Linked DNA regions of Homo sapiens. The protein of the gene in region 4 interacts with the protein of the main gene of each other region in a pairwise test. Each region holds a gene or a part of one and is shown on either strand. Other genes may lie near its edges. The genes, in order: FRMD8, UBASH3A, MCMBP and ZNF474.

Evidence for each region.
Region 1: the proteins of ZNF474 (region 4) and FRMD8 interact in binary tests that used the Homo sapiens proteins (3 or more experiments, as listed by UniProt).
Region 2: the proteins of ZNF474 (region 4) and UBASH3A interact in binary tests that used the Homo sapiens proteins (3 or more experiments, as listed by UniProt).
Region 3: the proteins of ZNF474 (region 4) and MCMBP interact in binary tests that used the Homo sapiens proteins (3 or more experiments, as listed by UniProt).

What each region holds. Positions count from the first base shown.
Region 1 is NC_000011.10:65,382,609-65,389,658, reverse strand, and holds the start of FRMD8 (FERM domain-containing protein 8), read right to left. Parts: upstream 3,023-7,050; 5' UTR 2,898-3,022; intron 2,623-2,897; coding exon 2,538-2,622; intron 299-2,537; coding exon 131-298; intron 1-130. UniProt on the Homo sapiens protein: Promotes the cell surface stability of iRhom1/RHBDF1 and iRhom2/RHBDF2 and prevents their degradation via the endolysosomal pathway. By acting on iRhoms, involved in ADAM17-mediated shedding of TNF, amphiregulin/AREG, HBEGF and TGFA from the cell surface.
Region 2 is NC_000021.9:42,399,972-42,406,937, forward strand, and holds the start of UBASH3A (ubiquitin-associated and SH3 domain-containing protein A), read left to right. Parts: upstream 1-3,930; 5' UTR 3,931-3,974; coding exon 3,975-4,087; intron 4,088-6,336; coding exon 6,337-6,390; intron 6,391-6,966. UniProt on the Homo sapiens protein: Interferes with CBL-mediated down-regulation and degradation of receptor-type tyrosine kinases. Promotes accumulation of activated target receptors, such as T-cell receptors, EGFR and PDGFRB, on the cell surface.
Region 3 is NC_000010.11:119,841,820-119,848,855, reverse strand, and holds part of MCMBP (mini-chromosome maintenance complex-binding protein), read left to right. Parts: intron 1-1,142; coding exon 1,143-1,243; intron 1,244-5,429; coding exon 5,430-5,602; coding exon of another isoform or gene 5,603-5,608; intron 5,609-6,260; coding exon 6,261-6,384; intron 6,385-7,036. UniProt on the Homo sapiens protein: Associated component of the MCM complex that acts as a regulator of DNA replication.
Region 4 is NC_000005.10:122,146,546-122,153,545, forward strand, and holds part of ZNF474 (zinc finger protein 474), read left to right. Parts: intron 1-2,778; exon of another isoform or gene 2,779-4,058; intron 4,059-5,233; 5' UTR 5,234-5,445; coding exon 5,446-6,540; 3' UTR 6,541-7,000.

The DNA.
Region 1 (7,050 bases), on a different chromosome or scaffold from region 4:
CCAAGTCCCACCTTTCCCCATGGGCAGTGGCCAGCGGCTCCCCAGCGGCTCCAAACACTGCCCCCTCCCTCCTGTACTGGTCAGTGCCCTTCCAACCCTCCAGCCTGGGCTCCTCACTGCCAAGCCTTACCCAGCAGAGGGGAGACCAGCCAGAGCGCGAAGACATCCAGGGCGATGTCTGGAAGCTGCAGGACCTCGCGGACAGCGCGGTGCAGCTCATGGGCACTGAGCGAGGGCAGGTTCTCCACAGCCAGGGGCACCACCGTGTCATCCGCTAGGTATACCAGCACGTCAGCCGCTGTGATGGAGACCAGGCAGGCTCAGCTGAGGCCTCTGCCTGGCACAGCCAGGCCAGGCCAACCAGGCACCCTCTACCACCCACTGGGGCTGGAGCCCCCACCCTACACCCCTCAGGGGTGACCAGGGCTACGCTCCTGAGACAGAGTCCTCGCCAGAGGCAGAGCCCCAGCAGCCCCAAAAGACCCTATCACGAATGCTATCTATTAGTGCTTCCTTGACACCCTTAAACCACCCAGAAACCCAGTAACTCCTGCCCAGAGACCAGCCCCACCGCAATCCCCCAAGATTCAAATTAAGCCTGGCCATTGCAAACCTGCCCCTCACCACCATAGCTGCCCCAAGGATTCAACTGTTCTTCTGCCCTGAACAAGAACATGCCACAGATGTGAAACTACAGCACAGAGAGGCTGAAACCACAGCATAGAGAGGCTGAAACCATCCTGAGGCTATGGCAGTTAGTCTGGCTGGCTGGCAGGAGCGAGAGCTGGTAACCCGCTGCTGTCCTTAGGCAAGTCTCTCTCTGACTGAGGCTAAGATGCGAAGAGATAATTCTTTAGGTCACCCAGGTTAAAGCAAGTTCCAGGTCTCAGCTTCCTTGGGACTCTTTAAGTCTGAGGACTCTTTAAGCCTCAGGAGTCAATACGAAGCAGGCTAGGGAAGAACAGCCCAAATAGCTGAGAGTTCCCTTGTGACAACTTGTGGGTTCCAGAGCCAAATGGAGACACCTGGAAGAGCAACCAGATTCAAATCCCCATCCCTGAGACTGCAGGCATGGTGAAGGAACACTGGAGTTTGGGGCCGACATACTCGGGTTCCCATCCTTGCCTGGTCGCTGGCCAACTTCAGGGAGTCAATTTAAGTTGTCAGTTGCCTCATCTGTAAAAGTAGAGCTAATACTCCTCCCTCCAAGAGTGTGTGGAAGGGAAGGGCACGGTTTCTCATCTACACAAGAGAAGGTGCTCCTCGGACCCCCAGTCTGTTATGCTCCAGCAGCTACTCTCAGAGATCACAAAATCACTTCGAGGAGGCTCAGGTTCAGATCTACTTCTCAGGCAAGAACTGAGGCACCAGAAGCTGCAGTATGTAATCACCTGGAGAGCTTCCACAGCCTGCCTGGGACTTAACCTCCCTAGGGCCCAGTTTCCTCCCTATCAAATGAAGATCATGATATGATCCCTGTTTTTTTTTTTTTTTGAGACGGAGTTTCACCCTCGTTGCCCAGGCTGGAGTGCAATGGTGCGAGCTCAGCTCACCGCAACCTCCGCCTCTCAGGTTCAAGTCATTCTCCTGCCTCAGCCTCCTGAGTAGCTGGGATTACAGGCATGTGCCACCACGCCCAGCTAATTTGCATTTTTAGTAGAGACAGGGGTTTCTCCATGTTGGTCAGGCTGCTCTTGGAATTCTCAACTTCAAGTGATCCACCCGCCTCGGCCTCCCAAAGTGCTGGGATTACAGGTGTGAGCTACTACGCCCAGCCTGATCCCTGCTTTCAAAAGGCTGTTTGGGAGAAAGAAAGGACACAGCCGGGTGTGGTGGCTCACGCCTGTAATCCCAGCACTTTGAGAGGCTGAGGCAGGCAGATCACGAGGTCAGGAGATCGAGACCATCCTGGCTAACACGATGAAACCCCGTCTCTACTAAAAATGCAAAAAATTAGCCAGGCGTGGTGGCGGGCGCCTGTAGTCCTAGCTACTCGGGAGGCTGAGGCAGGAGAATGGCGTGAACCCCGAAGGCGGGGCTTGCAGTGAGCTGAGATCGCACCACTGCACTCCAGCCTGGGCGACAGAGGGAGACTCTGTCAAAGAAAGAAAGAAAGGAAAGAAAGAAAAAAAGAAATGACACAAAGAAAGTGAACGTGTCACTTTCTTTTTTGTCTATGTTGCCCAGGCTGGTCTCGAACTCCTGGGCACATGTGGTCTGCCCACCTTGGCCTCCCAAAGTTCTGGGATTACAAGCATGAACCACATCAGCCTTCACTTTTCATTCATATAATCTCATTTGAATTTCACAGCTATGTTAAACAAGCTCATTTTACAAATGAGAGCGAGGACCCAACCTGGCCAGTAAACTAGTGACAGAGCCTCTGACTTCTGTGAGTTTTCCACATCTGAATGTACCTTATTATTTCTTAGTCGATACATAAATTATCTTTAATGAAAAAGAAGACAAGCCAGAGCTACTTCTCCAGGGCTGGGGTCCCAGGAGGGTGTGGAAGAGGAGATGCGGGTGGGACCCACCTCGGGCTCCCACGGAGGACACGCTGCTTCGGTGGGATCGCTCAGCGGGGCCGGGCTGCCCGGCACTGCCTTCTGTCCCGTCCATCTGCAAAGGCAAAGAGAAACAGCAGTTACCGGGAGCCAGGGATGGGGGGCTGGAGGTCTCCTCAAGCTCTCGGTGAGTACGGTAAGGGATCCCAGGCTGGGTCCGCAAGGTTGAGCGGCGCTGCCTGGAGGGGCCAAGAGTGCAGACCGGGCGCTGGTGGGAGGGGTGCGGGTTGCTACGGTCAAGAACCGGGGGTCGACCTGGATGCCCAGGCAGGGCAAGGCGCACGCCCAGCCGGGGACGGAGGCCCGGGCCAGACGTCGCTGTGCTCTCACCTCGCAGGGTCGCAGAGCCCGCCACCTGAGAGGCAAGGCTCCTGCCTGGAATCCTGCCCCGCCGCCAAGCCCGCCACCGCCCGCACTCGGGCTCCCGCTAAGGACGCAGCTGACCGGGAAGCGACGCGGAAGCCACGGCGGGAGGAAGCGCGGCGCCCGAGGCCCCGCCCCCTTCGACCCGGGGGAGCCAATGGGAGCCCAGGGCCGCCCCGCGCGGCCCGCGCATGCCCGGACGCCAGCCTCGCGTGTCTCATCACGCCCGTGGGGTGGCCGCGTCACGTACCAGCCCCGCCACCACCAGAGTGACCCAGAGCGAGTTTCCCTTCACAAAGGCCCCGACTGTTGGCCTGTAAGAGGGTTTGGCGAAGATTCGAGAATCAGGCTAGGGGCGTTGGCCTGCCCACGCTGGGTCTTCGGGCTAGTTCCCTGCCTGTGAAATGGACACTTCCTGGCACGTGCCAGGGATCCATGCGGCGCTGGCAGCGGCCTGTACCGTGGCGCTCTCGGCAGTGGTCAGGAGAATGAGTCCTGGCCCAGACTCATCCTGGACAAGTCCCTTCTCCTCTGGGCCTCAGTTTTCCTCATCTGTAAAATGAGGTGGTTGAACTGAATGACCCCCAAGGACTATCCCTACTCTCTAAATGATTATTAATATATGTCTATGTCGGCCGGGCGCGGTGGCTCACGCCTGTAATCCCAGCACTTTGGGAGGCCGAGGCGGGCGGATCACGAGGTCAGGAGATCCAGACCATCCTGGCTAACACGATGAAACCCCGTCTCTACTAAAAATACAAAAAATTAGCCGGGCGAGGTGGCGGGCGCCTGTAGTCCCAGCTACGCGGGAAGGCTGAGGCAGGAGAATGGTGTGAACCCCAGGGGGCGGAGCCTGCAGTGAGCCGAGATCACACCACTGCACTCTAGCCTGGGCGACGGCGAGACTCCGTCTGAAAAAAAAAAAAAATTTATATATATATGTCTAAATCAGAAAACCAGGACAGACACTCTGTTTTTCCAGGGAGCAGTGACATGAGCCCTTACTATCTTACACAACAGCCTGGGAGACCTTGAGGTTTTCCCAGGCTGGGAGGAGACTTGGGGCCCCAAAGAGGCAGGTGTGAAACCACCTACCCTCAGGGCCATGTCACTGACATGTCCTGGTAATGCAACATGTGTGCATCTGAGATGTGGAACTCAGGGAGAAAAATAAGTCCATGGGGCACCTTCTGGGGCCAGAGGAACCAGAAGTTGTCCCAAGTGACAGCAGTGGGCTTGGTGATCAGGAACAGAGGGCAGTGGGTTCACTTTGCCCTGGTTCCCTGGGATTGGAAAGCAGCTCTAGCTCCTGACCCAGTCCAGCCTTCTTTGGTATGTGAACCAGCTCTGCCTGCCCTCCTATGATCCACACTGCCCCACAGCTGAGCCCATGACATCACATTTGCCTTGCCAATGTGACTTAAGGACTTGAGGAAGCTCAGATGTGGGCTGCAGGGAAGGGTGTCCAGTGGGGGCAGGCATCTCCTTCCTGGTTCTCAGCTCTGGGACCCTCAGACCAGGACACACTGTATCTCCATGGCCTCTTGACCCAGCTGGAGTGAAGCAGGAGCAGAAGAGTTCAGTGTTGTTTTGAATGCTTACTGGATGCGGGGCTTGTGCTAGGTCAGGGGATGGAGACTGAGGGGAGACGTGGCCCTGCCCTCAGAAAGTGTCTGTTGTGGTTTAATTGGTGAGTTAAGGAAGAGGGGAAAGAGAAAGAAGCCCAGGAGAACAGCACATTTAAAACCACAGCACTTTGGGAGGCCGAGGCAGGAGGATCGCCTGAGGCCAGGAGTTCAAGACCAGCCTGGGGAACATAGTGAGACGCCATCTGTAAAAAACCCAAAAATTAGCCAGGTGTGGTGGCACACATCTGTGGTCCTAGCCATTCAGGAGCCTGAGGTGGGAGGATCGCTGGAGCCCAGGAGTGTGAGCTCACAGTGAGCTCTGATAGCGCCATCCTGCCACTGTATTCCAGCCTGGACAACAGTGAGACTCTGTCTCCAAAAAAATAAATAAAACCACAGAAGATGACAGCATTGCCTTAAGAACTATGAAATGCTACAGGCAGGAAAAGTCTCTGCTCACTTGCTGTGTGTGGGGCACTGGGCCAGGCCCTTTCCCCTGTTTCCTGTGTCATTCTCATGCGTCCTGAGAGTGGAAATAAGTATTAGCAGTTGCCATTTACGTGCCAGCCACTTTTTAAAGTGCTTTAATCCTTAGAACTCACTAAGAGGTGAGTATCACATCTCTGTTTTATGTCAAAGACTGACACCTGGGAGTGTCTGCGGTGGTGGTGGGGAGGCTAGAACCCGGGTCTAGTCAAGGAGGGGCACTGGGAGAGAGTCCGGGAGGCTGATGGTGGGGAAGGAAAGGCATTCCAGGTAGTGGGAACTGCACGAGCATGGTTAGGACCCCAGGAAAGACCCCCGCTGTGTGAGAGCATAGCAGGTGGGTGGCACCATGGGGGAGGCCTTGAACCCCAGGATGACAGATATGGGGCAGGCGTGTTAGACAGTAAGAACATTTTGGAGGTTGTGAGCTAGAGATTCACAAGATGACGCCATGCTTAGGTGGGCTTCCCTTCAGCAAGGCTGTAGGGAAGTGGGAATGAGGGTCTTTCTCAAACTGGGGTGAGGCGGTGAGATTGGAAAAGAGAATGAGACCCATTCTGAAGTGAGGGAGGAGGCGGCCTCCAGCCTTTAGAGCTGAGAGGCTTAGACATCAATTAGCCCGACTGCTGTCCTACTTTGGCAAACAATAATAGACCCCAAGGCCCACAGAAGAGGTTGCTCAACATCACTGAGAGAGATAATGTAACCGCCCATTGGGTTCACCTTACCCTCTGCCTAGACAGAGCCAATTTGTCAAGACAGGGGAATTGCAATAAGGAGAGTTTAATTCATGCAGAGCTGGCTGTACGAGAGACAGGAGGGTTTTTTTTTTGTTTGTTTGTTTGTTTTTTTTTTTTGAGACGGAGTCTCGCTCTGTTGCCCAGGCTGGAGTATAGTGGCATGATCTTGGCTCACTGCAACAGCTGCCTCTCGGGTTCAAGCGATTCTCCTGCCTCAGCATCCCAAGTAGCTGGGACTACAGGCGCCCGTCATCACACCCGGCTAATTTTTGTATTTTTGGTAGAGATGGGGTTTCACTATGTTGGTCAGGCTGGTCTCGAACTCCTGACCTCAGGTGGTCCTTCCGCCTCGGCCTCCCAAAGTGCTGGGATTACAGGCGTGAGCCACTGCGCCTGGCCTGTATCAGTTATAGTTTTTGCAAAGGCAGTTTCAGGAATAAGAAGCAGAACCAGGACTGCAGCCCAAGCCACCACGAGAGGCCAGTCTTTGGGGATGGTCTTTTAGGATGATCTTTGGGGGTGGCCCAAGGAGCCCCAGGCAGCTCCAGAGGCAGGAGGTAGGAGGTCCTGTTTCCCGAATCTGTCCACCCGGGAGAAAGCAGCAGGGGTGGGTGGGTTCTGCCTTGGCCACAGTGAGAGGAGAAGGGAGAGAAGGACTGGGCCTTGGGCGTCCCCCATGGGAGACTAGGAGCTGCGGGGAGATCTGGAGGGGAGGGTGCAGGTGTCACTGGGCCTTGATGTTTCCCAGGGCCGTTTGGTGATGGGAAGAGGGAACTGGAGCCCCAGGCTGCCGCTGATGCTGCTGGCTGACATTTCCGTTCATTCAGTCACTCAGGATTTATTGAGAGCCCACCCTGTGCCACCCGCTGTGCACAGAACACCCAGAGATCCCTGTCCAGACAGACAAGTTCTTCCCATCGTATGTTGGCGTGATAACTGTGATGGAGAAAGAGAGGAAGAGCCAGCAGTGCCTCCGGCTGGGGAGGCGGGGCAGACCTCACCCAGGTGGTGACATTTGAGCCCCAGCTGGAGGGGTGCCAGGGCAAGAGTGCCCAGGAAGAGGGAAGAGCCAGTCCACAGGCCTGGAGACAGAAGGCTGACTGAAGAAGAGTCTGGAGGCTCGGGTGGCTGCAGCAGAGAAAGCAAGGGGGTGGGTGGCAGGACGTGAGGTCAGAGGAGAATGGGCGGCACCCTGTGGCTCACAGATCCTTGAAAGGGTTTTGGTTTTGACTGAGCAGAATGGTGCCATTGCAGATCAACACGCAC
Region 2 (6,966 bases), on a different chromosome or scaffold from region 4:
TCTCGATCTCCTGACCTTATGATCCGCCCACCTCAGCCTCCCAAATTGCTGGGATTACAGGCATGAGCCACCGCGCCCGGCCCCAAAAGAATATTATTTAAAAATCAGGCAGGGCACAGTGGCTCACACCTGTAATCCCAGCACTTTGGGAAGCTGAGGCAGGTGGATCACCTGAGGTCTGGAGTTCCAGCCGGGCCAACATAGTGAAACCCCATCTCTACTAAATATATAAAAATTAGCCAGGCATGGTGGTGTACGCCTGTAGTCCCAGCCACTCGGGAGGCTGAGGCAGGAGAATCACTTGAACCCAGGAGGCAGAGGTTGCAGTGAGCCTAGATCATGCCACCGCACTCCAGCCTGGGTGACGGAGTGAGATTCTGCCTCAAAAAAGTGAAAATAAAACTATACAAATAAATATCACAATATGCTCACATTTAATGGTGAAATATTGAGACCTTGTCCTCTGAAATGGAGAGTTATACAAGAAGGTGCACTAGTACCACATCTGTTCAACATTTGACTTGGGTTCCAAGTCAGTGCAATAAAGGCAAAAAAAATAGAAGGAACTATTATGCGTAGAGCTGCCATGAACATTCATAGACCAATCTTTGTGTGGACACACGTTTTCATGTATATTTACCTTTATAAGAAACCCTCCAAATGTTCCCCAAAGTGGTTGGACAGTTACGCATTCCCACCAGCACAGTGTGAGAGCTCCTGTTACTCCCCAGCCTTGTGTAAACCTGGTATTTTCCATTTTAGCTCTTCTGGTGGGTGTGCTGTGGAATCACATTGCGGTTTTAATTTGCATTTCCCTGATGACTAATGATGTTGAGCATCTTTTCATGTCTATGTATATATCTTCTTTTTAAAAGTATCTTTTTTGATACTTTGCCCATTCTTAAAATAGATGCTTGTTTTCTTATTATTTGTTATAAGTATATATAAAATATTCTGTATATTCTAGAAACAAGTCCTTTGTCAGCTATATGTATAGTGATACTTTCTCCCAGTCTGTGGTTCACCTTATTATACTCTTTAAGATGTCTTTCAAAGAGCAGAAGTTTTCAACTTTGGTGAAGTACAGTTCATCAACTTTTTCTTTTGTTGGTTTATTCGCTTTATGTCCTAAGAAAGTTTTGCAAACTCCAACATAGCAAACATTTTTTTTCTAGGTTTTCTTAAGGAGTTTTATAGTTTTAGCATTTACATTTTGAGTTAATTTTTGTATATAATGTGAGGTAAGGGTTGAGGTTCGTTTTTCCTCCTACCAATATGCAGTTTTCCTAGCACTAATTTTTTTTTTTTTTTTTTTCAGACAGGGTCTCATTCTGTCACCCAGGCTGGAATGCAGTGATGCAATCACAGCTCATTGCAGCCTCGATTTCTTGGGCTTAAGCCATCATCCCACTTCAGCCTCCTGAGTAGCTGGAACTAATGCCACCATGTCTTTTTTTTTTTTTTTTTTAAGAGACGGAGTCTCACTCTGCTGCCCTGGCTGATCTCAAACTCCTGGGCCCAAGTGATCCTCCCACTTTGGCCTCCCAAACTGCTGAGATTATGGGCTGAGCCTCTAGCACCATTTATCAAAAGCATTATCCTTCCCCCATTGAATTTCATTGGCATCCTTGTTGAAAATCAATTGATTGTAGGTGTGAATCTTTTTGCACTACCCAATGACACACTATGACACACCATGGCAACCTGATTTGTAAATGTTTATGAAAAAGCAAAGGACAAAACCAGAGGGTTTAGCACTATAGTGATTAAAACAGTGTAGAATGGGCACAAAGAGGGACAAATCAAACAAGAGAGCACACAAGTTAGAAAAAACTAATCCATATACAGTCACTTGATTTACAATAAGCCTCCTACTGCAATTCACTGGGCAAAGGATAGCCCTTTCAATGCGGAAGTAGATGAAAGTTTACCCCTACCTCACACCATACACAGAATGAATTCAAATGGATCATAGAGCTAAATATGAAGAGCAAAAGTAGCAAAACTTCTAGAACAAAACATAGATGATCTTCATCGATGTTGGATTAACAACAATCTCTTGAACAGGATGCAGAAAACTCTAACCAGAGTTCCCACAAATTGATAAGAAAAGCAAACACCCTAGTGAAAAAAAAAAAAGAGCAGAATATCTGAACAGGAACTTCCCCAGAGAGGATATTCAAATGGGCAATAAGCCTGTGAAATGGTGCCCAATATCATTATCCCTCAGGGAAATACAAATGGGAACCACAGGGAGATACAACTACACACCACCCCCACCACAGAGTGGCTAAAATTAGGGACTGATAATATTAAGTGTGCATGAGGATATAGAGCTTTGTACAACTGCTTGGCAGTTCCTAATGGAGTTTCACGTGCTCTGTGATCCAACAACCCCACTCCTAGATGCACACCTAACAGAAATGCATGCACAAGGCACTCAAAGACACATACAAGAACGTCCTCAGCAACATTAGTTACAATAGCAAAACAACCGAAAACTTCCTGAATGCATATCAACAGAGAAATGGATAAATGAATTATGTTATATTTATTTTATTTATTTATTTTTGAGCTGGAGTCTCACTCTGTCCCAGGCTGGAGTGCAGTGATGCAATCTTTGCTCACTGTAACCTCCACCTCCTGGGTTCAAATGATTCTCCTGCTTCACCCTCCTGAGTAGCTGGGATTACAGGCATGCACCACCATGCCCAACTAATTTTTGTATTTTTTAGTAGAGACAGGGTTTCAACATGTTGGCCAGGCTGGTCTCGAACTCCTGACCTCAGGTGATCCACCCCCCCCTTGGCCTCCCAAAGTCCCAAAGTGCTGGGATTACAGGCGTGAGCCACCACGCCTGGCTGGTATATTTATTAATCAAATACTACACAGCAATAACAGTGAACTAACTGTGGCTACAAGCAATAATGTGGATAAATTTTACAGGCATAATTTGAGGAAAAAGAAATGAGATATGATAGAGAATATGCTATATGGTTCTATTTACATAAGGCTCAACCACAGGCACAATTCATATACAAGTGATACAGCAGTTTACTTTCTGGGGGAGGGAGGAGATAACTGGAGGAGGCTGAGCTGGGGGCAGAGGTGCATCTGAGGTTCTGAGAATGTTCCAGAGCAGGCTATCTCCACCTTGGCACTAGTGAAATTTTGTTGGGGAGACTGTCCTGGGCACTGTGACATTCCCGGCCTCTACCCACTAGTGCCGGTACCACGATGTCCACCCCACCCACCACCACCCCCGCCTCATTTTGGAAACAAAAATGTCTCCAGACATTTCCAAATGTCCCCTTGGGTGGAGGAGGTACAAAATTCCCCTGGTTGCCCTGTTTGATTTTGGGTCGTGGGGGAATTAGGGGTGTGGGCTCATTTATGGAAATTCCTTGAGCTATACACATATGATTCATCAACTTTTCTGTACACATATAAAGCTTTTAAAGTTTTTAAAATAAAAAAACAAGTCAATGAATGACTGAAAGAACCAGTAAGTTTTCCAGCAATCCGAGACAATAGATAGAGTGGGGTTTAATGTCTTGTTCACAGACAAGGAGACTGGGATCCAGGGTGGGTCAGGGCAGGGGGCCAGCAGGATCCAGGAGGGAACTCATTCCCTGACTTCTCCTCCGCTTCCTTCCCCCATGCTCTCACGCATTCTTGCTCCCGAATACTAGCCAAGTCCCTACAGAGGCTGATCCCGTGCAGGGGCTCGGTTGGACCTTTAGCCTCAAACTCCCGTGGTGGAAACAGTTAGGATTGGTGGACGCTGCACCCAGCATCCTGCAAACAGAATTCTGAAAACTGATATCTCATGCAAACAGGATATCAACTTTTGTCAGAAAGATCAAAAAGAGCTTGAGGTTTTTCTTCACAGCCTCAGCCTTGCCTCTCCCCCTCTTGCTTTATCTCCTCATTTCTGTGTGCAGGCGAGCTTCTTGGCCTAAGGGCAGGAAGAGATGGCAGCGGGGGAGACGCAGCTCTACGCCAAGGTCTCCAACAAGCTCAAGAGCCGCAGCAGCCCCTCGCTCCTGGAGCCCCTCCTGGCCATGGGCTTCCCGGTGCACACCGCGTGAGTACTGCCCAGAGACCCCGGGGCCCAGCCAGTAAGGCTGGTGCCAGACCCTGCTGCGGCCCCCGGCATGGAGCTGCAGGGGTGTAGGGTACGGCTTCCTGCCAAAGCAGTGCACCTTGCAGGGTAAGACACTGCCTCTTCACAGGGCCCTCTTCTGCTTCTCGTAAATGAGGTGATCTTGACCAAGCTTGTCCAACCCACATGAGGCCCAGGACAGCTTTGGGCTTAAGCCATCATCCCACCTCAGCCTCCTAAGGCTGCCCTGTTCAATTTGTGTTGGCTGCCCAACACAAATTGGTAAACTTTCTTAAAATATTATGAGATTTTTTTTTTAGCTCATTAGCTATTATTAGTGTTAGCGTATTTTATGTGTGGCCCAGGGAGGCACAAGAATACCCCTGATATTCTTGACCTTTTAAAGACCAGCTCGGCTGGCTGACTGGGGGACCCTGAAATTTGTGAAAATCAGAAGCCATGTATTACTCTGGGTGCCCCATTTTGGGGGTTTGGAGGAGATTGGGGCCTGGTTGTAATCTCTTTGTGTGCAGCTCAGTGACTCTGAAAGTGGCGTTTCAAGATATTCAAACTCTAACGTGAAAGGCCCCAAAGCCCGCTGAGTCTCTAACACTGGGACCAACTGTCAGCAGGGCTGTGCTTCCACGCTGCCCGGGGAAAGTCACTTGTCCTCAGAGACAATCCCTTGAGTGTCTGATAACGAAACAAATGGGTAGGAAACTTCAGACACAGTGTGAGCGCGACCCTGCTTACCCAAGGGAAAGGCCTGCATGTGGAAGAGCTTAGCCTTCAGAGTTACCACTCTCGGAGAGGGAGGCCACGACACCAACATTGGGTTACAGCTTTCATGGCAAACCAGTGCCTTAAATCTGACCCATTCATTTTTTCACATGGAAAAATGTATCAGAAACACACTTTAAATCTGACCCATTCATTTTTTCACATGGAAAAATGTATCAGAAACACACTTTAGGTAACTTTGGGTTGGGGAAGGAGCTAAACTTTCCTTCCACACTATAACAAAAGCTTGGCCAAATTGGGTGAAGTAACTCTGAAGCTAGACAAACCCATTTCTTCTCCCCAAATCAGGGCTTTGTCGTCACTGTTATGTTCAAGCTAAGCCAGGGGCCTTTGAATGGGGAGTGGGGTCAGGCATGTGCAGGGCGGCCACCGGGCACCGTCCAGGCATTACAGACAAGGCAGCTTTTGTCCACTGCTCACCACCCAGTGCAGGCAGGACACTGGGCCCAGAGAGTGCATTAGTGGCGGAGGTGGAACCCGAACCAGCTTTCCATGCCTTTGAAGGAGTCCACGCTGGATTTTACTACTAAACGTATAGCATGGACTTCTACTCAAAATTCCTTCCAGTTTAAACATTAAGCACATGTTGGAGGAAGAGAAATGTGTGTTAATTTCCCCACACCAGAGCACCTCATAGTAAGTGCCCTGCACCAAGGCTGCCTTGTTCAAACCTCTCCAGGTGGCCACAGCCCCATCGGTGCCCACCCAAATAGCAGCATTCGGCATCATGTGGTGGGTTCCTCATGGACGCCCGCTGTTTCCAGTCTGCATTCCTGATAAATTACCTTTGCTATATTCCATTCTGTTTCATTTGGTCCAGTTCTGCCCAATTCAATGCAATGTACTTACGTCCCGGGTTACCGTGATGAATAAGACTCAGTCCTGTGTTCAGGGAGTTCTTGGTCTAGCAGGGGAGAGCCGTGGGTGCAAGGGGACTGTGTAAGCCGTAACAAGTGCCTGCCTGGGTGCTTTGGAAAGGGCTGTTTCCCAGCAGAGAGGTGTGGGAGGCGAGCCTGGGGATCAGGGTCGCTGATGCTGGGGTGAGGAAAGCGTGTGTCCGAGCCAGGGGCACGTTCCGCAGGGTGGGTCCATTTGATCTAGGCAGTGGGGGGGGGGGGGGCAGGCCAGGGAGAGGGATTGCAGGAGCGGGCGGAGGTCAGGTCCTCAGCCCTGAGACCCCGTGCCAAGGGCTGAAGCGGGTAGCCAGGGAAGGACAGTGAGGGGGAGGTGTGAGCTGGTCAGCATTGTCCAAAACCACGATGGCAGCACTCAGGGGACAGGCGCTAGAACTTCCAGCTGGAAGTTCAGCATCAGGCCCTCTTCAGAGCACCCCCCAAAGATCCTGGGTGTGCAAGGCCACACCCTGCCTCTCTGACCCTTTTCCCAAGAATGGGCGACGTGACTTTGTGTCTGTGTCTGCTCTTCTGCAGGCTGAAAGCGTTGGCAGCCACGGGGAGGAAGACGGCGGAGGAGGCCTTGGCCTGGTGAGTGCAGCTGCTTCTGTAGACCCAGGGGCGTTTGGGCTGAATTCCCTGTGCCTAAGGACTCCCTCCCACCAGGGCTGATACCAGGAAGAGCCGGGCGCCTCTGGGTGGGATGGGGCCACTGCGGAAGTGAAACAAAATAACCTCCCTGCCTACCCATAGTGCACTGAGGGAGGGGCACAGGGCTTTGGTTAACCATGGAAAGAGAAAGAGAGAACTCTGAACAAGGCTTTCTTCACTTACAAACCTGATTCAATCCAATTTGACTGCCAAGAAGAACAGGTTCATGTGCTTTGTTGAGTAAATGGGGAAGACATGATTGTTGTGTTGTGATAAGCACGTAAATGAGGGTAATTGTTAGAATAAAGTAATTAGGTTAAAAATGGTAACATTTGGGTTTATATTAGTACTGCTAATATTCAGCCTATTTCAGTAATTGAAGAGCAGGCTGGGATTTTGCATACTTGTGTTTGATTATGTCCTCCTCAACTGCCTACTACGATGGATAAGATTGAGATAGATAGGAGGATGTTTGTGTTTATTGATGGAAAGATTTGAGACATAATTGACATCTTT
Region 3 (7,036 bases), on a different chromosome or scaffold from region 4:
TATCTTCTTCATTTTTGTCTTCTTCCTTCTCTCAGCAAAACCTATTTTTCACTTATATTTAAAATAAAACAGAAGGAAGAAAACTTTTAATAGTTTGTTCTTCCATCTTACTTATTCTAGTGTTTTGATCCTGATAAATGAGCAAGTGATAGAAGGTTCAGAAATGATTGTTAAGGATTTCTATCCTTATTCTTTGTGCATTTTGGGTTTTTTTGTTTTTGGGGGGTTTTTTTGTTTGTTTTTTTGAGGCAGTCTCACTCTCTTGTCCAGGCTGGTGTGCAGTGGCACGATCTCGGCTCACTGCAACTTCTACCTCCTGGGTTCAGGCAATTCTCGTGCCTCAGCCTCCTGAGTAGCTGAGATTACAGGCATGCACCACCACACCCAGCTCGTTCTTTATATTTTTTGTAGAGATGGGGTTTCACTATGTTGGCCAGGCTGGTCTCGAACTCCTGACCTCAAGTGACCCACCCACCTCAGCCTCCCAAAGTTCTGGGATTCCAGGGGTGAGCCACTGCACCCAGATTCTCAGTGGTTTTAACTGAAATGACACTTAAGTCATATGGCACAGGGACCAAAATTACCATTTTTTCCCCTGCCTTGCTTCTACCAGGTCTAATCAGTAAATGGCCTTGACTATTACTAAGTCCATCATGACAGACAATTTTGAAAGGTTTTTTTTTTTTTTTAAATTGTGAAAAATCTTCTGGCCATTCCAAGTTTTGTGTTAATCCGATGTTGCAGTTTATGAATAAATGCAAAGTTAATCATCTTGTTTTTGTTTTTTCCTTTTCTTGGTGTGGTTTAATAGGTTTTGAGATAGTGCACAGTTCTAGTTTTAACTGTCAGCCTTTGGGAAAAGGCTTTTTTTAATTTTAGGAAAAGCCTTTTTTTTTTGTAGTACTGTGGTATATTGAAAACAGACATTAGTCTGGAAGTTAGGCATCCTGTGTTTTGGTTTTTCACTTATTTGCTAACTAGCAGAATGACTCTTGGTCTCAATTTATAAAAATTTATAAAATAAAGGACTTGCTTTAAGGTCTGTTTCCTGATCTAAAATTCCAAGATATTGGTACTTCAAGACTAATATCTTAAGCTTTGTGTCTGTTCTAACAGTGTGATTTCATGTGGTCTCTTGTTAGGTTTATGAAGATTGGGATTGTTTCAAAGTAAATGACATTCTTGAGCTATATGGCATACTGTCTGTGGATCCTGTGCTGAGTATACTGAATAATGATGAAAGGTGAGTCTGTGTGCTCTTTTTTTGGTCTCCTTTATTTTTATATAATTTCAAGTTTTCAGGAGAGTTACAGGATGGTTTTAAAGAACTCCCTTTTCCCTTTCTCCCAGATGTACCAGTTGTAAACACTTGCACCCCATGTGTTTTGTCATTCATTTGTGCTCTCTATGCACACATTTTTCTGAAACACTTGAAAGTATGTTGCAGAAATCAAGCCCTTTTACCCCTAACTGCTTGTCAACATTTCCTAAGAGTACTGACTTTCTCATATATAATTAGAGTACAGGTATCAAAACTAGGAAATTTGCCACAAATATACAATACACTAATCCACAATCTATACTTAATTTCACTAATTGTCTTAATCATGTTCTTTCTTACACGTCTCCCTTCTGCATCCCCCAGTCCAGGGTTCAGAAGCTCGCTCATTCTCTATTTCTACTGAGTTCATACTGTATTTCTGATTCCAGTTCAGCACCACAGGTGTCGTTCTGCTTGTTCTCCTTTCTGTATTAGTGTAACTCTCTTAAACTTGATTCCCATTTTTCACAATCTTATCATTTGCACATTTTTACAACATAGAGAAGGGAATTTCAGAATTGTTAACTCATACCTTTACAAAACATAAACCTAAATAACTAGAGTTCAATCTGAAACAGTCCTCAGCCTTTGTCTTTCATGGTCTTGCCACTTTTTTTTTTTCCTTAAACAACAGAAATATATGTCTTCCAGTAGTTCTGGAGGCTGGGAAGTCCAAAATCAAGTTCCCAGCAGATCTGGTTTCTAGTGAGGGCCCGCTTCCTGGTTTACAGATGGCTGTCTTCTCACGTGGTAGAGAGCAGACAGCCTTGATGCTTTTGAAGAGTGTAAGCCAGTTACCAGTTACTTGTTTCCTCATGGTTAGACTCAATGTTTTGCATTTTTGGCAGGAATATTACAGAATTGATGTATCCTCAGTATGTTACAGCAGGAGGCATGCGATGTCAGTTTGTCCCTTTACTGGTGAGGTTAATTTTCATTAGTTGGTTAAGGTGGTGACTTCCAGATGTCTCTTCTGTAAAGTTACATTTCTCACTTTGTAATTGACAAGTAACTTGGAGGAAGGTACTTGGGGACATAAATATCCAGTTTCTCATTAAACTTTCACCAATTTATTTTAGCATTCATTGATGATTCTTGCTTGAATCAGTTATTACTTTGTTGGCAATTTTCTAACGCAGTACATTTATTTATTGGCATTCTACTATAAAAGATACCTCTTCCATTTGTTTATTCAAGTAATGTATTTACTTATATTTAGTATAGACTAATAGATTCTGATTTTATTCAATGTTAATATCATTATTTTATTTCGAGACCCAAATTTTCCCAGATTTGGCTAGTGGGAGCCACTTTAAGCAGGTGCCGGGTCCTTTTTTTGAGATGATGTTATCATTTTTTAACATTTATTTTCTGGCATATTAAGCTGTTGCAGCTTCATCGTATGCTTTGAAGATCTGAGTCCTAGATGTGCTCGTTGGTACTGGATTAGATTTGCATCTAGGCCCTTAAAGTAGACAGAGCTAGGATACATGCAGCATATGGATACATATATACGCACCCACATTTAAATGCACACATACACACTCACATGCATGTTTTGTGTATTTCTAATGTCTGTGAAAAACCATGGGTTCATATTTCTGATTCCAGTTCAGCACAGCAGGAGTCACATGTTCTAGTTGTTCTCCTTTCTATATTTATGACTTCTTTTTCTAACAAATTTGATTCCCATTATTCACAATCTGTTGTTTCCCCATTTCTACCATATACAGAAGGGAATTTCAGAATTGGTAACCCATACCACTACAAAACAGAAACCTAGTAATTAGAGTTCAATACATTTCCAGTTCATTTTTATTTTAGAATGCAGCTGTGTAGTCAGAGCTATGTTCCACTTACTCAGGTAACTTTTCTTCCCCTTCAGTGTGATTTCATTATTTATTTTACTTAGAAAGATTCTCAGAGGTGTCATTCTCGGCTATCCCCATTCCTGCTGTCTGTTCCCACCCAGCCTCCTTAGGGAACCACAGTTTCTGGTTTATCCTTCCTGTATTTATTTTTTTACAAAAATATGAAGATACGTATACATTTTATTTCTACCTTTTTCTTCTATAAAAGGTAACATGGTATATATACTCTTACACTTTTTAATTTTTTTTATTAACAACATATCTTGGAAATCTAGACCTTCCTCATTCATTTTTGTTTTGTTTTGAGATTGCCAAAAGCAAGGGCTGATGTCCCTCATCTACACCAGAGTCCTCTTGTTGAATACCGGACATTAATCATCTTAGTTTCTGTGTAGGATGAACTTAACATTTTTCACAGTTAAAAAAAAATGGTACAAAACAAAAATTTTAAACAACTTTAAATAAGCTTAACCGTCCCTTAATAATAGTATATGAGATTGTTCATCTTGGCAATTTCTGATTGTGATGACTTTCCTGCTTTAGTTACTTCACTATTGATGTAGTTTAGTTTAGAGGTTGTATTAGGGGTCTCTAAAGGGTCAGAACTGATAGGATAGATGAATATATGAAGGGGAGTTTATTAGGAGAATGACTCACATGATCACAAGGTAAAATCCCACAATAGGCTGGGGAGCAAGGAAGCCAGCCTGAGTCCCAAAATCTCAAAAGTAGGGAAGCCACCAGTGTAGGCTTCAGTCCGTGGCTGAAGGCCTAAGAGCTCCTGGTGAACCACTGGTGTAGGTCCAAGAGTCCAAAAGCTGAAGAACTTGGAGTCTGATGTTTGAGGGCAGGAAGCATCCAGCATGAGAGAAAGGTGGAGGCGGAAGACTCAGCCAGTCTGCTCTTTACATGCCTGCCTTTATGCTGGCAGCTGATTAGATGCTGCCCACCCAGACTGAGGGTGGGTCTGCCTCTCCCAGCCCGCTGACTCAAATGTTAATCTCCTTTGGCAACACCCTCACAGACACATCCAGGAACAATAATTTTCATCCTTCAATCCAGTCAGATTGACAAAGTATTAACCATCACAGAGGTTAAGAGCACAGACAGGCAGGCAGCCTGGGTTGGAGTCCTGACTTGGCCACTTACTAGCTATGTCACCTTGGGCTTGGTTTCCTCATTGTAAATAAGGGTAGATGTGAGGTTTTGGTGAATTTGTACGTGTAAGGCATTGAACGTTGTCTGTCACATGGTACGTACTATGGAAAAGGTTATTATGCTTGTATTAAAAAATACAGGAGTATGAATTTATTACTTCAGTGTCTATAGATTCTATAAAGTCAAGATCTAAAAGATTAGCTATTTGTTTTGGTCGTCTCACAAATCTATCATCTGCAGATTTATTTAGCAAGTCTGAAAAATTCATACTTTCATTGCTTGTCTACTCAGTCTTCGAGGGATCATGTAAGAATTAAATTTAGGAAAAACAATTAGCAAGATAAGAGATGAATGGATTCTCCACACGCTGAATAATAGATACCAGATGGCTTTTGAGAAAAAGACCCCAGTTTTTGAGATCTGCTGTCAAGTATTCGATGTCCCGGCCAATAGTTCAAGGAGTACCTGTGTTTTGAAATAGCCTTATGAGTGACATCCTACATTCCATTTATTGAAGTGCTGAATAACAAATATTATTGTTTCTGGCCAGGCATGGTGGCTCACGCCTGTAATCCCAGCACTTTGAGAGGCCAAGGCAGGCAGATCACTTGAGGTCAGGAGTTCGAGACCAGCCTGGCCAACATAGTGAAACCCTGTCTCTACTAAAAATACAAAAATTAGCCAGGCATGGTGGTGTGCACCTGTAATCTCAGCTACTCAGGAGGCTGAGGCATGAGAATCGCTTGAACCCAGGAGGCAGAGGTTGCAATGAGCCAAGATCGCATCACTGCACTCCAGCCTGGGCAACACAGTGAGACTCCATCCAAAAAAAAAATAAAAATAAAAATACCGTTCTTGAAAAATTGAATAAATGCATTATTTCATGATATGTCTTAACAAGCCTGAAGTCTGTGTGATGTAACACTTTAGAATGAGAGGCCACTTTCTGTTCTTTAAGGAGATGTACAGGTGGAAATATTCTTGGCTTTAACTCTAATTTTGTTTTCCAAGATGCACATTATTTTTGCATCTGTGCAATTGATGTCTCTCTAAATTGAAACTTTATCACCTCTCCACAGGGATGCCTCTGCACTGCTGGATCCGATGGAGTGCACAGACACAGCAGAGGAGCAGAGAGTACACAGTCCTCCTGCTTCATTAGTGCCGAGAATTCATGTGATCTTAGCCCAGAAGTTGCAACACATCAACCCATTATTGCCTGCCTGCCTTAACAAAGAGGAGAGCAAAACCTGTAAGTGTAAGTGTTACAGCCTAGTCAACTATCGACTGTTAGCCTCAGTGTGTCCAGAGCTGCCTGTAACGTGCTCATAGTGGAATTGAGAGTCAGGTCTTCATTCCTCACAATAAGTGTTTTCAGTAATCTCTCTCTCGTTGCCCCATTTTTCTCTTACATTAATTCTCTTCACTGAAATGAGGACAAAAGAGTATACAAGGCTGGGTGCAGTGGCTCACGCCTGTAATCTTAGCACTTTAGGAGGCCAAGGTGGGTGGATCACCTGAGGTCAGGAGTTCGAGACTAGCCTGGCCAATATAGTGAAACCCTGGCTCTACTAAAAATACAAAATTAGCCAGGTGTGGTGGCGTGTGCCTGTAATCCCAGCTACTCGGGAGGCTGAGGCAGGAGAACTGGAGGCAGAGGTTGCGGTGAGCTGAGATGGCACCATTGCACTCCAGGCTAGGCAAAAAGAGCAAAACTTGGTCTCAAAAAAAAAAAAAAGGAGGATGCAAACTGCCTTATTTTTAAGATTAGCATCACTTACTGACGGATATGTTAAGCTTTACCTACTGTCGACTGAATTGTGCTTTGCTCACGTAGTTATTTTTTTACCTAAGACACTTGAGAGGAACTGGAGTGTGTGTCCTGACTCAGGTCTTCCTTTCTCCTTCAGTTGTTTCAAGTTTCATGTCCGAATTGTCTCCAGTCAGAGCAGAACTTCTTGGGTTCCTTACTCATGCCCTTCTGGGGGATAGTTTGGCTGCTGAATACCTTATATTACATCTCATCTCCACAGTGTAAGTGCTGTATCCTGGTGGGAATTAGGGGAGTTTGGTGTGTGTGGAAGTGGAAGAGCGGGAAGATTGCTGGTGTCATTTGTGTGTTTTCCTTATTGGGCTTCATCACATGGTTTTTATCTGTCCAGTGTTAACTGTTATACCAAATCACAGACAAATTCCTTTTCTCACAGTTCACATTTAGCATTTTGATTATGTCCCCTTAAATTTTAGAGCCAAAATCAGATAAAGCAGTGGTCCCCAACCTTTTAGGCACCAAGGACCCATTTCATGGAAGACCATTTTTCCATGGACCGGAGTGGGGATGGTTTCAGTATGAAACCGTTCCACCTCAGAACATCAGGCATTAGTTAGATTCTCATAGGGAACACACAGATGTGCAGTTCACAATAGGGTTCGCGCTCCTGTGAGAGTCTGATGCCACTGCTGATCTGACAGGAGGCGGAACTCAGGCGGTAATGCCCACTCATCCACCCCTCACCTCCTATGTTGTGGCCCGGTTCCTAACAGGCCATGAACCAGTACTGGTCCACGGCCTGGGCGTTGGGGACCCCTGAGATAAAGGACCTGGCTGATGAGTAAAATGAGCTGTTTTATCCCTTTTGCATTCTGAACGCTCTGTTTATACATCCCAAGGCGCCCACGTCATGTG
Region 4 (7,000 bases):
AAATCTGAAATTTGAAATAACATTATTAGGATGAATTGTGCTAATCACCAGTATTAAAATACAGATATCTCTCAATTAGTATTAGGTTTCCATGTGAATAACAGACTCTTAAAAATGGCTAAAATAAAAATAAAAATTTACTTTTCTTATGTAAATAAAGTCCAAGAAAGGCACTCCAGGGCTTCTATGATGGTTCCAGCATTACCAGGGACCCAAGTCCATCCAGGCCTCTGCTCTGTCATATCAAGTGTTACATAAATGAAATCTGTTCTCAACTGGCTGCTAAAGCGCCAGTCATCACATCCATCTTCGAAGCATCAGTAAGAAGGAAAGGAAGAGAAGCAATTGTTCTCTTCTTCCTTTTCAAGAATTGTTCTTACAAGTTCCACACAATATTTTCACTAACTACAAAGGAGCTTGTAGATGTGCCCAGCTGAAAGTTGGGGCTCTATTAATTGAGGGAGTTGAGTGGAATGGCTATTGGTAAGGAACTAACTGTCTCTGCCGGACATTAGAAGGGACATTATCTCATCAATTATAAGCCTTGGTGTAAATGAGTCCATCAGTTCCTTTTTGAAAGCAAGATTTCATAGGTAAGACGGACTGGTGAGCATACAAGAATACTAGGCTGGAGAGTGGAGGCTGCTGAATGGGGTGGGTGAACAACATTGAAGATGAACCTCCTCTATTTTAGAATCTTGATCAGAGCCACCATCAGCCCCAACTCCATCTTTCTTGTTTATGTTTTTGTTCATTTAAAGAATTTGAATTCAATACTAATAGAGAAGGGATCATATCATGTATCAACTATATTTCTTTTGTTTCAAAGGGCTAGATTTTTTTATATACTTTAAGTTCTAGGGTAAATGTGCACAACGTGCAGTTTCGATACATAGGTATACATGTGCCATGTTGGTTTGCTCCACCCATTAAATCATCACTTACATTAGGTATTTCTCCTAATGCTATCCCTCCCCCATCCCCCCACCCCACAACAGGCCCCCATGTGTGATGTTCCCCGTGCTGTGTCCAAGTGTTCTCATTGTTCAGTTCCCACTTATGAGTGTGAACATGAGGTGTTCGGCTTTCTGTCCTTGTGACAGTCTGCTCAGAATGATGGTTTCCAGCTTTATCCATGTCCCTGCAAAGGACATGAACTCATCCTCAAAGGACTAGATTATTTTTTAAAAGATATGATCACACTTTTCATTGTGTTCTGTTCCCTCTCTTTTAGAGAGACACCTTCTAATGCCAAGATGGTTTTTGGATTTCCACGGTTATTACATTCTTCTTTGTGTGTTTGTCTCTCCCTTCCCATGAACCCTGAAGAGAATGGAAAAATGGCATCATGTTGATAAAAGGTGATGCCTTCCAGGACATTCTGTAAATGTCCTATGTGCAGATATGGTCAAAACGAATAATTCAGGCCAACTGAGTGAACATTTCTCCAGAGATGCTTGAGGTAAAACTGTCTGGCTTTGCAAAGTGGTTCTCTTTATAAACTAGCAACATTGCTTTATGACGTTTTGGGTGACAGGCCAATTTCTTATGTGATTTAAGTATATGCATTTAGTATTTTCCAGCACTTTTGCTTTTAGAGCTAACTTATAAAGGGAGAGCAACCAACACTGCTGTGCCATGGCATGTTGCCTTTGCACAGTCACTGGCAGAAACATTACGCATTTCTCCATAAGACACCTCCGTTCCCAAAAATTTCACTGGCTTCCAGCTACCTCATCTTTCATATTTTGATACCTTTAGTCACAATAAGGGAAAAATTTCAGGAGAACATTGGAGAAGGAAAGGGATGGTAGAAAAAGAAAAGTTGAAGATTCAAATGGACGTTTTGTGATGTTTCATCGTGTTTGCTGCAGAGAAAATATTTGCAGTGCACAAATGTTTGTGTGCGGTAAGATCTATCCCTAATCAAATGGTGACATGGCTTCAAACTGAGCACTACCTGGCCTCTTGGGGCAGCCTTCACTTTTACCCTGTGCCCATGATCAAGACAGACAAAACACATCATTCATCGTTGGTCTGCCCCATTCCCCCAACTGGTCCCTACCTCTGCTGGTTATGTAGATTTTTCTGAAGATATTGGTGAAATTAAGAAAAGAATCTGTACTGCACATCACTCAGGAAAAACTACATCTAGAAAACAACTGTATATGGCAAAAGTGATTCTTTTTTTTCTTTTTTTTTTCTTTTGAGATGGAGTTTCACTCTTGTCAGCTAGGCTGGAGTGCAATGGCGCGATCTTGGCTCTCTGCAAACTCTGCCTCCCGGATTCAAGCGATTCTCCTGTCTCAGCCTCCTGAGTAGCTGGGATTACAGCCACCATACCCAACTAATTTTTGTATTTCTAGTAGAGACGGGGATTCACCATGCTGGCCAGGCTGGTCTCAAACTCCAGACCTCAGGTGATCCGCCCACCTCGGCCTCCCAAAGTGCTGGGATTACAGGCATGAACCACCGCGCCCGGCCTGGAAAAAGTGATTCTTAATGCAGAAACAGAAAACCAAATACCACACGTTCTCACTTATAAGTGGGAGCTAAACGTCAAGTACACGTGGGCATAAAGATGAGAACAACAGATAGTGAATGCAAGCGGAGGAAGGGCTGAAAAACTACCTATTAGGTACTATGCTTACTACCTGGGAGACAGATTCATGTGTACTCCAAACCTCAGCATTACACAATATGCCCATATACCAAACCTGCACATGTACCCCGAACCTATAATAAAAGTTGAAGAAAAAAAGTCCCCTGTCACTTAACATTGAAAACATTGTGTTCCATAGCCCCAGTCTCTCTCTTCTGCTTTGTCCCTCTCAGAGGCTTCTCCTCTGTGCCTTGTCTGCACTCCTCCTTCTTGCCTCTTCTTTCTTCTAAAAGGAAGCATAACAGCTGGTGAGAGCTTAGTTACCTTCCCCTGAGGCATATGGATAATACATTAAAACAGGGATAAAAACTAAAGGGAAGAAGCTCTGCTGGAGGAATTTAGGCAGAATGAATAATGGAAAGAGCCACGTATTGGAGCCAAAGAGAGCTGGAATTGATTCACAGTTCTGTCATTTAGAAACTGACAGTCTTGGGCAAATTACTTGTCTTTTCTGAGTCAGTTTCTTTACTTATAAAGTTGAAATAATAATACCTGCTTCATAATCATTTGAGAATTAACTAAAATTATGTTTACAAAAAATCTGTGCCCTATCTGGCATATAATTGGCATTCAGTAAATATTACCTCTCTTGCCTTATCAAAAGGGAGATGGAGGGGTTGCTGGGGAAAGTCATGGGGATTTCTCAGTATTCTAATCTGCTGGAAACAGAATTGACTCTGTGTGTGTGTGTGTGTGTGTGTGTGTGCGCGCGTGAGAGAGAGAGAGAGAGAGAGGGAGGGAGAAAGAGACAGAGAGAGAGAAAGAGAGGCAGAGACAATTTAGGGGAAGGAGGCTTATTTGATTGCATTGATTTTTCTAATCTGTCTTCTTAAGTCATATTAGTGTCTGCAATTTCCTAGTATCAAGGAAAATGATAAACTAAAATTCCTCGGTGAACAGAGCCAATAAAGCAGAATGGTTTGTGGAAATAACCCACGGGCTGGATTTAAAACCTAATGAAATAATTTTACCCTATTCCTATGTTCCATAGATCTACTTTCTCTTTTAGATGGTACTGATCGAGTGATAAATTTCTCTGTTTTATTTTCTATGCTGGCCACTCTGGGGCCAACACATACTTTTCCCACATCTGTTAACATTACTGTCTTAGAATCTGTCAAAATGAAGAATAACTTCTTTCTCTGTGCCAGACCTGATTTGATACTCTTAAAGGCAAGGATTCAGACCTTTGTTGGCACCAAAGTACAGGAGCTGGGCACAGATATCACAGCTCTTCTTGTTCTTTATCAAATCCAGTGCCCAGGGTTTCCATATTACCAGGACTGCTGGCCTTGCACTGTCCAAACTGAAGTGTTTGCCGTGATGTAGAGGATCCAGCTTCATACCAGGGGCTGCTCTTCTGTGGTTAAGAATGGATGCTTTAGAGTTTATCACCCTGATAAATGAAACGATAAAGGAAATGAAAAAGGTCCTGAGGCTTCTGAAATAATCTTTTTGGGGAGCCAGATTATAAACCCACGGTAAAATTTACTCATAACTTTTCCCAATATACAAATTTAAGATTCTTCCCATAAATGGATATCTAAGCTGCCACTTCTTCTGGTGGGGATCCTTGGGGAATCCAGGGCCTTTGTTTTATATTTAAAAATATTTGGAAGTCATACATATATAAAACAAGAAAGTAGGTATGATACCTTTTTAATAAAAAAAGAGCCTCAAGCAGCATCTGTGTATCATCTTTCCATGAAAGATCTGCAGATATCCCACCAGGATGGGTGCCGGCCTAGGCTGTACTCTTTGCTGGAGAATTATAGCTCCACTTTATTAATACCCTATTCCCATAATAAACAAAAGTGAATACATGATGTGTCACAAGAAGTTTATGTCCCTCTGAGGGCTATCCTGATAATCCTCATAAGATTCATTCTTGAATTACTTCTTCTGCAAGAGTTCTTAATTTCAGGTCCATGGACACTCAAGAAGTCTGTGACACAACTTTACCTCAATTAAAATGTATATCACAACTAGAAACAGTTGACAAATTATTTCAGTAAAACTGATTTCACCTGTGATAGCAACAATTTTTATTTTTACTTATAAAAATACTATTCTGAGAAGTGCATAGGCTTCACAGAATTGTCAAAGGAATCCATGTCACTAACAAGTTAAGGATCTCTGACGTAGTGGAAGTTTCTGTGGGGCCCAGGGGGTCTTTTCGTATGACCTGCTGATTTCATTAATCTAATATTCACAGTTTGCAGTTTTCTCTTCTATGGTCTCACCACCCTGGTCTCAGCCTCTATTGCTTTGCGTCTTCTGTATCTATGATGTGCTGTAATTGTCAAGTTAACTTTTTGGGCAGAACACGATTTTCAATACAGTGATAGTGCAATTGATGATGGAAGATTTCCTCAGGTTTATGTCAGTTTATTGACCAAATCCCATATGCTGGTTACTGTGCTAGTCAAAAAGTATACAAGGTCAATATTTAAAACAAGCAAAAAAAAAGCACACACACACACACAAAACAACCTAAATGTGTGTGTGTGTGTGTGTGTGTGTGTGTGTGTTTACATAATAACTTCTTATGTCTCCCACCCGCCTCCACAGATCTTGGAGACATCTCAGCTTTAATGAGGACTTTCCAACATTCCAGACTGCCGTCCTGCAATGAAGCTCTGAGTCACGGTCTGTGAGGCTAAGGTACTGGCAACGGTGTGAACCCCAGGACAACTAACCTCACTAACCTTCACTCTAAGCAGAAGCCCAAAGTGAGTCTGGCCTGAAATCAGAGCAAGCACTACAGAAAGACATCTTTGTTAATGGAAAGAGGAAAGAAGAAAAGAATTTCCAATAAGTTACAACAAACTTTTCACCATTCTAAAGAACCCACTTTCCTTATCAACCAAGCTGGGCTTCTCTCTAGTGACTCCTATTCTAGCCTTTCCCCAGAAACAGAGAGTGTTAATCCTGGTGAAAATATAAAGACAGACACTCAGAAAAAGAGACCTGGGACTGTGATACTATCAAAACTGTCAAGTAGAAGAATTATATCGGAAAGCCAGCTTAGCCCCCCTGTGATCCCGGCCCGCAGGCCTGGATTCCGGGTATGCTATATCTGTGGCCGAGAATTTGGGTCCCAGTCAATTGCCATTCATGAACCCCAGTGCTTGCAGAAGTGGCATATTGAAAACAGCAAGTTGCCCAAGCATTTGAGGAGGCCAGAACCCTCCAAACCACAGTCTCTCAGCAGCAGTGGGTCCTACAGTCTTCAGGCAACTAACGAGGCTGCATTTCAGAGTGCCCAGGCTCAGCTGCTGCCCTGTGAATCCTGTGGCCGCACATTCTTGCCAGATCATCTTCTTGTTCATCACAGAAGCTGCAAGCCAAAGGGTGAGGGTCCCAGAGCACCACACTCAAACAGTTCTGATCATCTTACTGGCCTCAAGAAAGCTTGTAGTGGAACCCCAGCCCGACCAAGGACTGTTATCTGCTACATATGTGGTAAGGAATTTGGCACCCTGTCCCTTCCTATTCATGAGCCCAAATGCCTGGAAAAGTGGAAAATGGAAAATGACCGGCTCCCTGTGGAGCTCCACCAGCCACTCCCACAGAAGCCTCAGCCCCTTCCGAATGCACAGTCCAGCCAAGCGGGACCAAATCAAGCTCAGCTTGTGTTCTGCCCACATTGTAGCCGAATCTTTACCTCAGACCGCCTCCTGGTACACCAGAGAAGTTGTAAAACTCATCCTTATGGGCCAAAATATCAGAATTTGAATTTAGGGAGTAAAGGAGGCCTAAAAGAGTACACTAATTCCAAGCAGCAAAGGAACAGGGCAGCACCCAGTGTAACTGATAAGGTAATTCATGCCACACAAGACGCATTAGGTGAACCTGGTGGTGCCCTCTGCCTGTAGGGGAACAAGAGAAAACTATCCCCAGAATCAGCCACCTCAGCCCCTAGTATTTTTTCTATCAATGCCTTGTATCAGCCTCAAAGCAGCCTGTTCAAGTTAACTCCCTGTTGAACTCCAGGGCCTATACCTCTCTTGGCTGAATAGATATAAGAACATCCTTGCCTGATGGGTTCATATTCCTCTTCAATTCTGCTGTCTAAAAGAAGAAGAGATGGACTTCTTTCTTCCCTGATCCCTGATACAAATAATCCCTGGGAGAGACAGTAATTTGAAAATGAGTCATTAATGCTGTGTCTACATTACAGAGATATAATTCCCATTCCAACAGCCAATATTTATTGTCGGTTTATTTTAGTCATCTACCTTAGGAATTCATTTTTGGCAATGCTGGGTTATGCTGAGTTTATCTTACTAAAATAGAATCTGTGTCAAAAACCCCCAATGACTTTAGCAACAATTA